2 separate regions of the Homo sapiens genome follow, and region 2 is linked to region 1. The links come from fine-mapping of genetic effects on gene expression. Tissue or cell type: whole blood. Region 1 holds a variant in brackets; the other region holds the start of a gene. All regions are shown on one strand. Distances are from middle to middle.

The links. PIP is the estimated chance that this variant, and not a neighbour inherited with it, causes the effect.
Region 2: it holds the start of RARG, and the variant in region 1 is fine-mapped to the expression of RARG in whole blood (INTERVAL, PIP above 0.99).

Annotation. Positions count from the first base shown.
Region 1 is chr12:53,090,603-53,098,696 of GRCh38, forward strand. IGFBP6 (insulin like growth factor binding protein 6) reads left to right here and starts at 7,065. Exons shown (of 4, transcript NM_002178.3): 1 at 7,065-7,449. The coding sequence starts at 7,116. RefSeq lists silencers at 7,373-7,452, 7,463-7,582. The variant G/A (reference allele first, on the strand shown) is at 5,069.
Region 2 is chr12:53,228,743-53,236,830 of GRCh38, forward strand. It overlaps RARG (retinoic acid receptor gamma), which reads right to left and starts at 3,467. Exons shown (of 10, transcript NM_000966.6): 1 at 3,232-3,467; 2 at 2,427-2,493. RefSeq lists silencers at 3,153-3,282, 3,603-3,652.

The sequences.
Region 1 (8,094 bases):
TTTTGTTTTGTGGGTACTTTCTTACTTTCTAGTGCTACAAGATGCTCTAGATCATCTATTTTCCCTGCCCCAAACCCAGAATCAGCCAGTTCTCCAAAAAATGGAGAAACGTTCTTCCTTTTTTGGAGAATGGTATTTAGAAACCAAGATCTAGCTGTGAGATATGCTACTGTTATTGTAGTGTCATTTCTTCTAGGCCCTCTGGGGCAACAGAGTTAGGTAACACATGTATGTATACTAACCATGTGCATATAGGTATCTATAATCGTTTCTGTATCTAGTCATCTGACTATATATTAAGCTAAATACAAGTTCACACTGCTGTCTCCCATTCTAACCCAGTACCACAGAGTTCATTATATAGCCTTGTGGATCTGTGACTTCTCCCTCTGACAGTGAGAAACCTGGCTCCCAACATTCATTACTTATTTGTTCAACCCCAATATATATGTAAAGCACTTTCAAAATTTTTAACCCATACTCCAATGAGAAACAGATGTACCAGTTACAGTACAGTGTTTCTGTAAAGTGCATTCTTCTTTTTGTTTTTAGCCTTTGAGAGTTTCCAGTGAAAACACTGTTTTCCAAAGTTACTTAGGTCAGCTCCTTTTCTTCTCACCCTCCTCAGTGTGTGTGTCATAAATGTGTAATATAATTAGATTAATTTGTCACAGTCTGCATTCTATCCCAGAATACCCTGGCATCCTGGCTGATTTTCTCAGTTGTTTATCGTATGTTGGATAAACAGATATTAGCACTAAGTTCTCTGGGAGCACAATTCCTACTTATGTCCATATCTCCCAGTTACATCTACATAAATAGGTGCCCTATGAATCCATTGAATGACTGAATATACTTTTATTCATTTAAATATTTTAAAAAGCAAGACGCAGGTCCTTAGTTGCTCCTTTTTGTTCACTAATGATTCCCAACTCCCAATCATCTGGCTGGCTCCAGCCCAGTCTAGAAAAGTCTTGTTCCCTTTCCAGCTCTCCTTCCTCTGATGTACCGAAACACTGGGGACCCAGGTGGAGCACACATGCACACACACACATCAACACGCATATGCTGTTTTGCTCTCCCTGCCCTTTTACCTTTACAACTGTTACACAAAGATGTGCTTTCCTCCTTGGGATGCCTTCACCATCCCCTCTCTTCATCCCTATCCATCTCTTCTCCCAAACTCTCTTGTAAAGCCCTGTTCCCTGGGAAGTCCTGTTTGATTTACCCTCGGGGCAGTTTTCCCTCTCCTGACAGCACTCTGGGCCTCTCAGACTATTGGCCTTTACCTGAGAGCAGGGAGAAGATGAAGAAAAGAGAGAGGAAGCGCTGAAGGGGTGGGAGGGCCAAGAGAGCTCCTGGAGTAGGCTGGGCTAGCGCCTAGGTCCAGGAGGATGGCGGAGCCTCCAGAAGTGTTGCAGTATCTCCGTCACCTCTCTGTCCCTCCCCCAGGACTGCCTTTGCTCCCACCAAAAACACCGATATTTCCTGGTGTCTATTCTAAAGTCCTTCTATGGGCTGGAAGCTGGAGGCCCAGAGATAAAAAAGGAATGGGGGCCCTATTCTCAAAACACCCACAATCTAACTGGAAAAATGATGCAGGAAAAGAGGAGCAAAAATATAAAATAGCAACACAATAATGTGGATGAATTAAAAGGAAGGCAGGGTGTCAACTGGCCAAGTAGGTGAGGAAGAGGTGCCAGAATTTGGTTAATGATGGGCTAGGTGTGGTGTCTCATGCCTGTAATCCCAGTACTTTGGGAGGCTGAGGTGGGAGGATCACTTGAGTCTAGGAGCTCAAGCTCCTATATTGTCCAGCCTGGACAATATAATAATAAGATCCTGTCTATATAAAATACTTTTTTTTCTTTTTTGAGGGGGGTTTCGCTCTCGTTGCACAGGCTGGAGTACAATGGTGTGATCTCAGCTCACTGCAACCTCCGCCTCCTGGGTTTAAGCAATTCTCCTTCCTCAGCCTCCCAAGTAGCTGGGATTACAGGCATGCGCCATCATGCCAGGCTAATTTTTTTGTATTTTTAGTAGAGACGAGGTTTCACCATGTTGGTTTCACCAGGCTGGTTTCGAATTCCTGACCTCAGGTGATCTGCCCACCTCGGCCTCCCAAAGTGCTGGGATTACAGGCGTGAGTAAGCACACCTGGCCTAAAAAATTAAAAAATTAGCCAGATGTGGTGGTGCGTGGCTGTGGTCCCAACTACTCTGGAGGCTGAAATGGAAGGATTACTTGAGCCCATGAGGTTGAGGCTGCAGTGAGCTGTGACTGAGCCACTGCACTCCAGCCTGGGTGACAGAGTGAGACCCTGTTTCAAAAAAAAAAGAATGTGGCTAGTGATGAGGGGAGTGAAGGGAGGGTCCTTGTAAGCTGAAAGCTTGGAGTTCAGGGGAAGAAATGATCTCTGAGCACCAATTATGCCTCATCCTCATTTCCCCTTATCCCATTTCAATCCCCAAGATGAGAAACTACCAGGGGGTTCTGGGGAAGGTGATTCAGCCAGCTAACTGAAGCAGAGTGTGTTTCAGGGTCATTGTCTACGGGACCCTGAATGTCAGGTGGAGCACAGGTTCTATGGTAGGGGAGGACATCGAGGAATAACACACACCGGGACCTGTGGGGTCGGGGGGCAAGGGGAGGGAGAGCATCAGATCAAATAGCTAAGGCATGTGGGGTTTAATACATAAATATATGGACTGGGCATGGTGGCTTATGCCTGTAATCCCAGCATTTTGAGAGGCTGAGGCGGGCAGATCATGAGGTCAGGAGTTGGAGACCAGCATGATCAACATGGTGAAACCTCGTCTCTACTAAAAATACAAAAATTAGCCGGGCACGGTGGCACGTGGCTGTAATCCCAGCTACTCAGGAGGCTGAGGCAGGAGAATCACCTGAACCCAGGAGGCAGAGGTTGCAGTGAGCCGAGTTCGCGTCACTGCACTCCAACCTGGGCGACAGAGCCAGACTCCGTCTCAAAAAAAACGAAAAACAAAAAACATAAATACATAAGTGATGGATTGATAGGTGCAGCAAACCACTGTGGCACATGTTTACCTATGTAACAAACCTGCACATTCTGCACATACATCCCAGAACTTAAAGTAAAATTTAAAAACCAAGAAATAAAAAGTAAAGTGCCCCCGAAATCCTTGAGGAGAAGAGAATTATGGGATCAGGAGCACATTTCAGCAGGACCAGTTTGGATGGTATGTGTGGGAGAGATGGCAGAAAACAGAGGCTGCAGGTTAGCTGAGGTTTACACAGTAGTTCCCATCAGGCCCACGTCAGCCTTAGGCCATGTCATGATGTGATGTGGTCATTGAACTTCCTCTCTGGGACTTTCTGTCTGTGGACTGTGCCACTGTTTCTCGTCTCAAATTTAAAGCTGAATATGGTCCAGGCAGGCCCCTTCCTTTATCCCTTGTTCTCAAAAGGAAGTCAGCACTTGGGGCACCATGAATTTAGAGGGACGGGTTGAGTGTGAGAGACACAGCATGAAGGATCAGAAAACCAGGGTATAATGTAGATGCGGAGGAGGAAGTTCCAGTAGAGTTTGTTTATGGAAAAGCTTAAGTGATAGCCCAAGCTATTTAGCCTTTCCTCAGCCTGGAAGAAACTTCTCAGCAAACCCTTCTCACACAAAGGCCAGACAGAATCCGACAGTTTTGTACCTTGGCCCACACTCTTGGTCTGAGTGCTGAACATGTGCTTCAGATTTCTGCCCTGGGTACTAAGGCAGAGGGCATCCCAATGGCAGGAAGGCAGAGTTCAAGCGTCTCAGTCTGCAAAGAGACCGGTTAGACCCTCAGTGCTGATGGCCATACAACTGGGGATCATGCTAGAGGGAGGGGGAAACAGGGAAGTGTAATCCTGGGGTGGTGGGTGGAACTGGACTGTGCAATCGGGCTTAGAATCTAGAAAGTAACAGCTGGGCAGGTGGGAGCGGCAGGCAGGGAGAATCTGAGGCAGTGGTAGCAGCGTGGGAAGCGGGGGCTGGAAATTGAGGAGGGTTGAGGAGGGAGTGGTGGATGTTAGAAGCTGGCAAAGTGTTGGGCTTTTTCTGAACGATAACCTACAAAGGAGTAGCACAGCCTTTTTTTTTTTTTTTTTTTTTTTTTTTTTTTTTTCTTTGAGACAGGGTCTCACTCTGGTTGTTCCAGGCTGGAGTGCAGTGGTGTGATCTTGGCTCATCCCTTCCACCTTAGCCTCCTAGGTAGCTGGGACTAAAGGCATGCACCACCACATCTGGCTGATATTTTGTATTTTTAGTAGAGATGGGGCTTGGTCATGTTGCCCAGGCTGGTCTGGAACTCCTGGGCTCAATTGATCCTCCCACCTTGGCCTCCCAGAGTGCTGGGATTACAGGCATGAATCACTATGACAAACATCTTTAAAGAGCCACATCAATCTGGGTGCAGTGGCTCACACCTATAATTCCAGAACTCTGGGAGGCCAAGGCGGAAGGATCACTTGAGCCCAGGAGTTCCAGACCAGCCTGGGCAACATGTCGAAACCCCCTCTCTGCTAAAAATACAATTAGCCAGGCGTGGTGGTGTGTGCCTGTAGTCCCAGCTACCTGGGAGGCTAAGGTGGGAGGATCTTCTGAGCCCAGGAGGTCAAGGTTACAGTGAGCCGTGATGGAGTCACTGCACTCCAGCCTGGGAAATAAAATGAGAACCTGCCTCAAAAAAAAAAAAAATCTAGAACCAGACCAGAAATACCATTTGACCCAACGATCCCATTACTGGGTATATACCCAAAGGAATATAAATCATTCTATTATAAAAATACATGCACATGTATGTTTATTGCAGCACTATTCACAATAGCAAAGACATAGAACCAACCCAAATGCATGGAATACTATGCAGCCATAAAAAGGAATGTGATAATGTCCTCTGCAGGGACATGGATGAAGCTGGAAGCCATCATTCTCAGCAAACTAACACAGGAACAGAAAACCAAACACTACATGTTCTCACTTATAAGTGGGGGCTGAAAACAATGAGAAAACATGGACACAGGGAGGGGAACAACACACACTGGGGCCTGTGGC[G/A]GGGTAGGGGCTAGGGGAGGGAGAGCATCAGGTCAAATAGCTAATGTATGCGGGACTTAATACCTAGGTGTTGGGTTGACGGGCAGCAAACCACATGGCACATGTTTACCTATGTAACAAACCTGCACATTCTGCACATGTATCCCAGAACTTAAAATAAAATAAAATAAAATTTAAATTTAAAAAAGAGCCACACTGGGATCCTGCAAGAGCACAGCCATCTCTTTCCCCTTCCCAACTTCCCACAGGCTTTCCATCTTATTCAGGAGCACCAACCCGAAGTCCAGGAGAAAGACCCTAAGACCCTAGCCAGAACCATGTGTAGGACAAAATAAATAGTGATAAAGGGTGTGCAGCAGGACCCCAGTACTCTGGAACCCATCTCTGACAGCCTTGGTTCCAGGGAGCTTGGTCAGAGCTTGTGGCAGGGGGTTGAAGAGCCTTGGTGGAAGGGGTGCTTTCTCTCACCCCTTTCCCAATTTTGCCCTTCCTCTCCTCTGCCCTGGTCTACTTCTCCCATCAGCAGTAGCTTCTCCCATCAGCTGCCCCACAACCCTCTCCTCCCTGCCTCTCCAGTCTGCATCAGTATCTCAGGGAAACAGGAAAACACCATTCTCCAAACACATGTCCTAGGGTCCCAGGGTTGCATGGCGAAGCGGGCTGTGCTGACAATGAGGTTCGTATTATTTCTATTTACCTAAAAGTTCAAGAAGGCCTTGCTGACATTGTTGCTTGGGGCCCAGCATTTAAACTTAGTCACTGCCCAGAGCCCTTGTTTTAGGAAAGAATGAGATGGTCCCTGTTGCATAACCCAGAGTTGGGTGGGTGTGGGTTGCCGAAGGAAACAATCCCTCTTCCTCTCTCTTGTGAGGCCTGGCTAGGAGTGCCTGGGATGGGCGGGACACTGCCTGGGGAAGGCGGGTGGGGAGCGGTGGAACCCGACCCTTGGAGCGAAGGCGGACAAGTAGGTAGGCAAAGATGCTGAGTAGTCCCTCCCCAAAGTCCCCTGGGCACAAGACAGTCTGATGAATCTAGAAAACCCCATGGATGACTGGGAGGGAAGGAAACGGATTCTGGGAGAGGAGAGGAATGGAGGAGCGAGCTTACCTGAAGGACGGGGATGGGGAGGGGGGTGGGGTCTGCTCTCTGGCCACTGTCCCCAAGAGCATCCCGAATACGAGTTCCTTTAATTCTCTCCCTCTCTAGTTTCAACCTGCCAATTTCCCCCTTTCCCTGCCTCCCAGCCAGTTCTCACCCTGCACACAGCCCTCTCCAATCCTTCCAGACTCCGCATGCGCCCACCACAATGCTAGGGTCTCCTACGGTTCATTCAAGTTGTATCCCTCCCTGCCTCCCGGCCCTTCCCCCATTGGCTTACCCCAGTCTGGTTCCCCTCGGGCCCCTTTTCTCCATAGTCTTACCTCAAGGGTGCTTTCTCTTACTCCTTTCCCAATTTTGCCCTTCCTCTCCTCTGCCCTGTTCTACTTCTCCCATCAGCAGTAGAATTTCCCAAGACCCCGTTATCCACCCTCTCCATCTTTTCTCTGTCCCTCCACATTTGCCCACTCCTCTTGTGATCCACACACACCATCTCTTCTCAGTTCCCTTTCAGCCCCCGTCTTCTCACTCCCCACCGGGTCCCTGCATGCCCCTCGTCGTCCTACACATACACACTAAGTGGATTGCACTCCCGTCCTCCCCTTCTTCCGCTCCTCCCCACCCTCCAGTCCCTCCAGCCAGCTGTACAGCTCCCAAATTCCGGGCCGAGATTCCCGGGAACAAAGCAAGAAAAATCAGAGCAATTTGGGAAGTAAACAGAAACTGGAAAGGGAGAGGGAAAGAAGAGTGGGGAGGACCCAGGTTGGGGGGGCCCTCTCCAGTCCCACCCAGTTTAGGGAATGCCCCTGCCCTCTCCCCCACCCCCCTTCACCTGGCTCTTAAAGGGCCCGGCCCCTGGCCGGCGGCTACTTAAGACAGAGGGGCGGCGGCGGGCAGCAGCTGCGCTGCGACTGCTCTGGAAGGAGAGGACGGGGCACAAACCCTGACCATGACCCCCCACAGGCTGCTGCCACCGCTGCTGCTGCTGCTAGCTCTGCTGCTCGCTGCCAGCCCAGGAGGCGCCTTGGCGCGGTGCCCAGGCTGCGGGCAAGGGGTGCAGGCGGGTTGTCCAGGGGGCTGCGTGGAGGAGGAGGATGGGGGGTCGCCAGCCGAGGGCTGCGCGGAAGCTGAGGGCTGTCTCAGGAGGGAGGGGCAGGAGTGCGGGGTCTACACCCCTAACTGCGCCCCAGGACTGCAGTGCCATCCGCCCAAGGACGACGAGGCGCCTTTGCGGGCGCTGCTGCTCGGCCGAGGCCGCTGCCTTCCGGCCCGCGCGCCTGCTGGTGAGTCCGCGCCCCGCCCCTGCCCCGCCCACGTGAGACCCGCGTCCTCCAGGCAGGGTCCTGGGGAGACGGGAGTGGGTGGCCCGGCAAGCCTTTCCGCCCTGGCCCTTGACGCTTCCGACTTTGGGGGGCACATTTGTGTGGGGGAGAAGGGGCAAGTGCAGGAAGCTGAGGTGCAGCCAGGGGACCTGGTGATACAGCAGAAGGTGTCTGCGCTCTCGGCCTTCTTTTTTGCTCCATTTATTTTCCCTTGATGGAGTGTGCGTGCAGGTGGGAACTTGGGGGAGGCAGGGGGAGAAATGGGAGGGTTTTAGGGCCATCCCATGGGCTCCAGCAGGCCCAGCTCCTACAACCCTAGACGGCCAAGCTGGGGAAAGGACCCAAATGTTGTTCTCAGCTTCCACTTGGAGAAAAGGGGAGGGGAACCCCAGACTCTGAAATTCTGCACACACTGAGAAATGACTCCTTTCCTCCTAATACCGGTGTTCGAAGCACCTAAACAGGAGGCGTCTAGAACCGAAGAGGCCCCAAATCCAGGGTTGTATTAGACTTGAGTAGGGACTGAGGGCAGGCTAGGGCGTAGGTTAGGGGAGAGGGGAGAAAGAGTAGGGGAAAGAGGGAATCTGCCAAATCAGGGTTATGATT
Region 2 (8,088 bases), 140 kb after region 1:
TTTATATTTTTAGTAGAGATGGGGTTTCTCCAGGTTGGTCAGGCTGGTCTCGAACTCCCAACCTCAGATGATCCGCCCACCTTGGCCTCTCAAAGTGCTGGGATTACAGGCGTGAGCGACACGCCCGGGCATTCTGCCTCCTTTTCTTTCTTATCCCTGGGCTCCCTGTTTCTAGGAAGTTCTCCCTGCAACCTCTCCTCCCCCAAAAGTAGGCTTCCCTCTAAGAGTTTAAACCTGAGCCCAGGGGAAGGGGAGGAGAAGGAGGTAGAGAGAGGAGATGGGAATCCTAGTGCTAAGTAGGTGGTTCCTATCTTCATCCCCTGACAAAGGAAAAGTTTGGCTTTCCTAGGAGCCCCAGAACTTCTCACCTCTCTAGGCAGTTAGTGGGCTAGGGAGGAAAAGTCACCCCAGCCTGGGTATCTCCACCAGTCAGAGCCATAACAGACTGCTATGAAGGGCAGAGAAGGGCCAAGAGACTAAAATGCAGAGAGACCATGGGGTGGGCAGGCCCAGAGGTAGGGGATGGGTATATCTGCCTTTCTTTCCATCAGTATTTGCTTCTAGGATGTATAGCTCTCAGTCTTTATACCTCTGGTTTTTATTTTTGTTTTTGCTTGTTTTTCTTTCTCTCCTCTACCTTGGCCTTCAAGCCCTTGAGGGTAAACTGTCATGGAGGTTACAAGAACCCAGACCCCAACGCCATCACATTTCACTCAGCCCTTATGAATGAAGCATCCCCTGCCCCTCACCATGGCACCACCCATACACCCAGCACCCTCAAACTCTTTAGCCCAGTGTCTTCGCAGGCCCTAAAAGTCTGAGCTCCAAGCCTCCAGGGTCCCTCTCCTTTTCCTTCTCCTATTCCCCTCCGAAGTTCTCATCCCTAGTTAAGCCCTGATGGAGCCAGGAGTTTGGGGGCCCCTGAGGCCCCTGGGCCACAGCTCAACTGGCCAGGCCACATTCCAGGTGGATTAACCCCTCCAATGACAAGGGTGAGAAGCTACTAGAGGACTCCCCCATCCCCATGTTCCCCAGACTTGGCTTAGACTGGGAACAGGGCTCTCTGCCTTAGCCCTCCTTGTCTTTGCTTCTCACCTACCAATGGGAAACACAGGCAGGTAGGGCAGTGGGGGTCCCCACAGAGGGATGCTCAGCTCCTGATCCTCACCAAGGAATGATGCTGCATGTGAGCCAATGAGAGTTGTCCTTGGCCTTCCTCTTATTTTGCCTCAGAGAAGGGACTTGGGAGTTGAGTGAAGAGAGGAAGGGGGTAGAGATTCCTCCCATTTCTGAGCCTTGGTTCTGTCGTGGCTGGGAAGAGAAGGGGAGGGTCTTAAACCCAGGGTAGGAGAATGGACTAAGGAATTGAAGGCAGTGCAGAGTAAAAGGAAGTCCTAAACTGAGGCCCCAGGTGCCTTGGTTCTTTGGGGGACTCATGGAAAGTAGAGAACATTCTTCCTCTACTAAGATGCCATCTCAAATGGTGGGGCAGCGGGGATGACAGACTAGGGGAGAGGGGCTCTTACAAAGCTGCTTCTCTTAGAGCTGAGGTGGAGTTGAGGGGAGGGCATGGATGAAGGGGGCTGCCGGATGGAGGGGGGTGTGTTTCCCTGTCGCCCTGCCCGCTCCAGAGCCTGGAACAAAGCTGCTCTTGTCGGCCACTCTCCACCCGCTGCCCCCCTCCCCTCTGTATAAACACGACCACCTTTTTCCATGACCCCATCTCCAGCCTGGGCAGAGAACCCAGGCATCCTCTGCTCTAGCCTGGGCCCCCAGCCTGCTCCCCAGGAGGCAGCAGTGGGCCAGGCTTCCTTGGCATTGTGCCATCCCTGGGGGAGTCCAGACCCTTGAGTCTCCACCTCTCATCCCCAGGTGCCCTCCCTCCACCCTACTAGCCCCAGGGAGGGGCAGTGCCCAGGAGGCAGGCAGGCAATGCCAGTGGAATGTGTGTGGGCATCAGAGGGCATGGACAGGGTGGGGCAGAGGGGGGAACTGGAGGTGCCAGTTAGGTGGCTTTCTGAGCCAGGGGTGGGGGTGTGCCGGGGTGTGGGGGGGCGTGCCCCATGCTGCCTACTAGGCTGTAGGCCACAGTGCGTGTGTGTGTGTGTGTGTGTGTGTGTGTGTGTGTGTGTGTGTGTGTATGTCTGTCTATATGGGATACCCAAGCTCCAGGCTCCCTGCACACACTACCCCCACTCCCCTGTCTTCTCTCTACTTGCCTCAAGGATATGAGATGCTGGCTATGGTCCTTGACCCCAACTCAGCATCTGACCCTAAGGGCAGAAGCCTCAGACTTGAGGATTGGGATTCCAGCTGCCCAGGACCAGAGCCCTAAAGCGGGACAGTCATCTCAGTTTCTTGCCCTGAAGACCTCCTACTCAGGCTCCCCTGCCCCCACCACCACTAACAACCAAGCATCTTCTTACCCGCTGGCCGCCTGCAGAGACTGGCTTCTACATACTGGGTCAGGTTGAGGGAACTGGGCCGTAGCTGCTAAAGACAGAGAGGCAGCGTCAGTGGAACTCTGGGACCAGCACTCCTGGGTCCCTGTCCCGGTCTTCCTGCTCTTTCTTTGTTCCATTTGGGCTTCCCTCAAGAATACTCCAGAGGTGCCCCCCACCTTGGCTGGAGGGAGCCAAGGCTCGCACCTGGGCTGGGAACGTGTGGGAGGGAATCCAGCGCTTCAAGGAAAGTTCACAGATCCCTATCCTATGCACCAGTCCTTCGGAACTCCTGGACGCGGAGGGCCAGGCTCACTTGCCTCTGGACGTTTTCCTTGCCTTCTGATGTCCAAGCTGTCCCATTCCACTGGGGAGGGAGGAACTTGGACCAGCATGGAACATCAAATCTACCCCTCAGAGCCCGGGGGTAAGGGGGTGGTAGTCTTTCCCCGCGAGAGGAAACCCTGTCTTCTCTCACATTCCCAGCACAAAAATATAAGGAGGAATGCCCCCTGGCTGAAGACTTCCCCAAATGCTGTCCTCTGCTATGCACCAAAATGAAGGGCAGATGACCCAGCCCATCCTCAGCCTGTTAAAATCTTCCCCATTCCCTTCCCACAGCAGGACTGGCCTGGGTCGGGGCAAGAAGCCCCCCTCAAGCCCGGCGGCCAGCCTGGCCAGCCTCGGGAGGGCATTCGCCCGTGCAGCTCCTCCGCGCCCCCTCCCCCAGCCGCCTCGCCGGAGGACCCAGGCGACGGGGCGGGCGAGCCTGCTTCCCCGCCTGACTCACCTGGAGTGGGAGGGGGAAGGGAGGCGGCGGAGCCCCGAGGTCCCGGCGTCGGGCAGTCTCTTGGATGGAGCGTCGCAATGTCCGGGGCTCGCCGTACTGGGGGGCTCCTGGGGGGGCACGGCTCTAGGCTGGGACTGTCCCGGGGCCTCTCGGAGCCCGCCCGCCCACGTGACCGCCCCAAAATATCCGACACATTTTCTCCCAAACCGCACACTGACTCTGCAGGCGGGGACACGGAAAATATTTTCTTTCTTTTTCTCCCTCCCCACCCCCCCCCCAACCTCCCTCCCTGCCCAACTCCCTCCTCCCCCTCCCGCCCTCGCTCCTCCCTCCCCTGCCTGCCCCTGCCCGGCTCCCTCCTCTGTGCCCTGGGGCTGGGGGGCGGAGGGATGGGTGGGCGGGAGGGGGACTGGGCGGGGCGGCCCGGGACGCCTGGGTCTCTGCCCTTCCCATTTGCTAGGCTTCCGTGACTCCATCCTCTGGGAGGCCGGGCACGGCTGGCAGAGGAGGTCAGTGTCCTGGCCCCGTGATGCCAACCTTTTCTCTCTGGCACTTTTCTCCTTTCTGCCTTTTGGGGGGACTAGTTGAGTTGTCTGTGGCCAGGCTGTGACTCTTGCGAGGCCAGTCTCTGGCGCCTCCCCAGGGTAGGCAATGGGGCGGTACCCACTCCCTCCCAGTGCTGGATTGGCCGGGCAGGAGTATGCCAGATCTAGAATAGATGCTCCTGCCCTTACTCTTTGCTCAGCCTTCACCTGCAGATCCAAGTAGCCTCTCCCTTCCCCTAGCCCACCTCAGTCCTTTGGTCCCAGGAGCAAACTGGTTGACTAGTGGCTGTTGCTGGGGGTGCTGAGGCCAGGGCTCACAGACATCTTCCCTGTCATCTTGCCTGGAGTAAGCTCCAGGAGTTAGGGCGCCTGGGTCCCTGGCTGCCAGTTGTCCCCCACCTTTAGGCCTGGATTTGGAAGGGGAGAGGCTGGAGAGGAGGGCAGGAGGAACTGTGGCTGGGAGTGGGAGGAGCCTTGGGCTGGGTGTGAGAGAGAAAGCCCAGGCAGAGGGTGTGTGTCTGCCCTAGCCAGCACCGGCCTGCCTGCCTGCCTGCCTGGTAGATGTGCCATGAATGCTGTTGACTCCGGGTGTGTGTGTGTGTGCGTGTGTGTGTGTGTGTGTCTGTGCAAGCGCGTGCGCATGCCAGTGCCGAGAGTGAGTGTCTGTGTCTGATGGGGGCATTATCTGCTTCAACATAGACAGACTCTCAACCCTAGAGTGAGAGAACCCAGTGGTTTCACTCTGCATTCTACTGAGGACAGAGGGAGAGAAAAGAATGGGTCTGCAGTCCAAGCTCTGTGCACGGATCCCAAACACTCCCATGGGGACTGGAGTTGGGAGGGAGAAAGAGGAGAAGGGGAGAGTCTGAGCTAGGCTGATAGGCTGGACAGACATACCCAAAGTACCTTCCCCAGCAATGCTCGCAGGGTGACCAGGACCTGGGACACAGACTCCTGGGTCACGTCACATTTTCCATACTGGAATTACTTGGCTTTGTCCTTGCTCCCCCCTGGGGGCCAGGTGTCCTCCCTCCTGGGAAAGGCTGCTTTTGGTAGCCAAAGTCAGGTGAAGGAGATGGGGGAAAGAAGAGGCATGCTGTGGTTACCTCAGGGAATGGGAGATGGCAATGGGGGTGCAGACAAGCCCTCTCTTTCACTCCAGGGATAGGAAGAGCTAGGAATAGATACTCCAGGGTCCCGTCCCCAGGTGGCCTAGCTGCTGTTGACTTTGCTTGGTTACCCTGGGAGCAGCTCTCAGCAGTGTGGGAGGGGCGGGTGTCAGGGAGTTGGACCCAGGCGTCCAGGCTGGGGTGGGATGGCGCCCCGCCTGTGTGGCAGGGCTCCTGCCAAGAGGCTGCAAAGTTAACCCCTCCTGCCCTGCCCTAGTGGTGGCTGGTGGGAGGAGGGCGGGCCCAGTTGTGGTTTGGGAATGTGGCCCTAATTTCCCCCTCCCCCTTCCAGCACATCTGTACTTGGTTTACAGTGAATGAGCCTCCTGTCCTCATGAACCAGGCAAGGGCACCACTCCCTCCTTGGCCAGGCATTCTGACACAGAACCAGGCACCACCCGTGACACTCTCCTCTCCCTGCTGAGTATCATCTCTCTGAACTCTTCCCTTCTCCTTCTGTAGAGGGGCTTAGGGTTGGTCCCAAAGATCTACAGCTGGAGCTCTGAGACAGTGCATCTAGGTAGCAAATGGGGCCAGGGAAGCCTAAATCGGGGGACAAAACACTTGGGGTAGCCTCTGAAAACAGAGGGAGTCAGAATTCCAACTGTCTCTGCCCTCCCTTTGTCTTGGTTTGTCTGTCTGTCTGCCCGGGTCTTTGTCTCTGGTGGGCGTTTGTCTATCCATCCGTCTTGGTAACTGTAGCTCCTCCCTTCTGGCGGCCTCCTCGTCCCCAGCCGACGACAGCAGCCAAGCAGCGATGCCCAGGAAGACCCGCCCTATGCCGGCCCCTCCCCTTGGGATTGCCACTGCTTCCACCCCCGCCCCCTCTACCGCCCCTCCCCAGGACCCAGTGACTGGGGTCTGTTCACTGCAGCAGTTTGGAAGTCAAACCAAACAGCAGCAGCAGATTGGGGGACAGGGAAGAGGGGCATTGTGAGGGCTTCAGATTCTTCTCCCCACCCTCCACTCCCCAGCTTGCAACAGAGCCAGCTTTCTGTCCAGAGATTCCAGGAGGAGGCTTGGGAAGAGGGCTTCCCACTCTGGAAACTGGTGGAGGGGGCTCCCCTCATTCCTCTTTCCCTTGGGTCATCCCTATTTCTAGGCTTTGCTCTGTTTGTGGCTGCTCTACTTTGTCACCCTGGCAACTTGGAGAAATGATATCTTGGGGGCCCTAGTACCAGGCTTTGTTTGCTCCCCTCATCCCAGAGCAAAGACCAAAAGGAGAGATTATGAGGAGAGGAAAAGGATGCAGATATCTGTCCCACCTGTCCTGAAAGTCATGGGGAAATGACTTATTCAGTGCCCTGATGCTGGGGGGGCGGACAGTGGTGAGGATGAAAATTGCCCCACCCTAATTTTCACCCTCACCCCCTCCCAACCCTCCGGCATCAGGACACTGAATAGGTCATTTCCCCATGCCCAAATCTGGTGGTGTGGGGGATGTCCTATGCCATGCTCAGAGGTGTCTGGCAGATGACTATAGGGGGTGGTGGGGGAGCTGTGTTGCAGCCCCCAAAGACATCATTAAGGCATGGAAGTGCTGTCAGGGCTTGGGGACCAGGGCACCCAGGGAGAGCGTGATGAAAACATGTTTTGTACAACACGTGTCCTCTCTTTTCCCTTCCTCCTCTCCTCTCCCACCTCCTCCCCCTAGGCAAGCTCTGTGCCAGTGCTGGTGCCAGCCCTGCCTCTGGTGCTTGCTCCACTCCATCCCTTGTACTAGGCCTATTCTGCTGCTTGCCAGCTCGTTGACTCTCCTGGTGAGGGAGTTTGTGTGTAGAAGGTCCTTACCAGCCCCAGTGCTGCCCAGATCCCCACATAGAATAAGGACTTAATTTTGAAGCTCAGGATTTTAGGATTAGCCTAAACACCTCTGGGAATTTCTTCCCTGAACAGGCACCATGCATTAATTCAACAAATCTTTATTAGGCATCCACTATGTGATAAGCACTGTGCTAGGTTCTGGGAATACCCAGGTATGGTCCCTGGCAAGTTCACAGTCGGATGGAGTCAGTTGTTAACCAAATAATCCACAAAACTGCAACTAGAATAATCAGTGTGGAGAGGCATGAGGGACCATGAGAATGGAGCAGAGGAGTATTCTCCGCCAAGGAGATCAGGAAAGTCTTCGGAGAAAAAATGAGGGAGATTAGAGAGAAGGAAGGGCAGTGAAATATATGTGCTGCTCAAGAGTATGTGCAAAGGCCCTGGAATTGATGTCCTGGCCCTCAGCCAGTCTGCTCCCCCTGCCCCCAAAAAAGAGGGGCCTTCCATTCCTGTGACGTGCTTGGATTTCAATATGCCAAAAGGGAGGGATGGTAAGTACCTCCTTGTGGTCATAGCAGGACGCTGAGATACCTGAATGCATTCATTTCCTCCAGAAAGGGAAACAGAGACAGAGAGGGAAGACGACTCACAGGCTGAGACTTGAGATTATACTATGGAAAACAAGGCCCCATGCTGGCAAATCCTCCAGGGTGAGGGATTCCTGCATTTGCCCAGCTGGAGCCTCACCAGACAGAAGGCCTTCTCCTCTGAGCCTGCTCTACCATGCCCCCACTCCCCCGATCCAGCCCTGACCTGTCCCACTCCCTGGAGCTAGCACGTCTGCCTCCACAGTTGCCTGGAGTGTGTGTGAGGCGAGTGCTACAGGTGTCTGCCAGCCAGTGTGTGGGTGGATGTAGCTGTCTGTTTTGCACAGAATCTCCATCCAGGGGATACGGGGTTCTCTTTCCCCTGTCCACTGGAGAGCTTCCAATTCCTCCTACCCAGACACAAAAGTTCCAAGTCTCTTCCTTTTGAAAAGGAATTGGGGGCCCCTTGAAAGAGGGAGCAGACCTCTTTGTGACTGTGCCTCCTCTAGAGCCAGCAAAGAGGTCATGGAACCAATGGGGTTAAGTCCCAGCCCTGCTGTGACCCACTTTCCTCCCTGTGCCCACATCCCCTGGGGCCAGAGTGTTGGGTGGGGCCAGCCTGGCACCCCCACACCCACACCTGGGACTTCCCCTGGATGGAAACTCCCAGAACCCAGGCATCCTGCTTCCCCTGCCAACTCCCACCAACTGCCTGGGTTCTATTCAGCTTCAGTTAGATCTCCCTGTCTGCCAGCCTTTGACCAAACTACATCTGTGCTCCAGCCCACC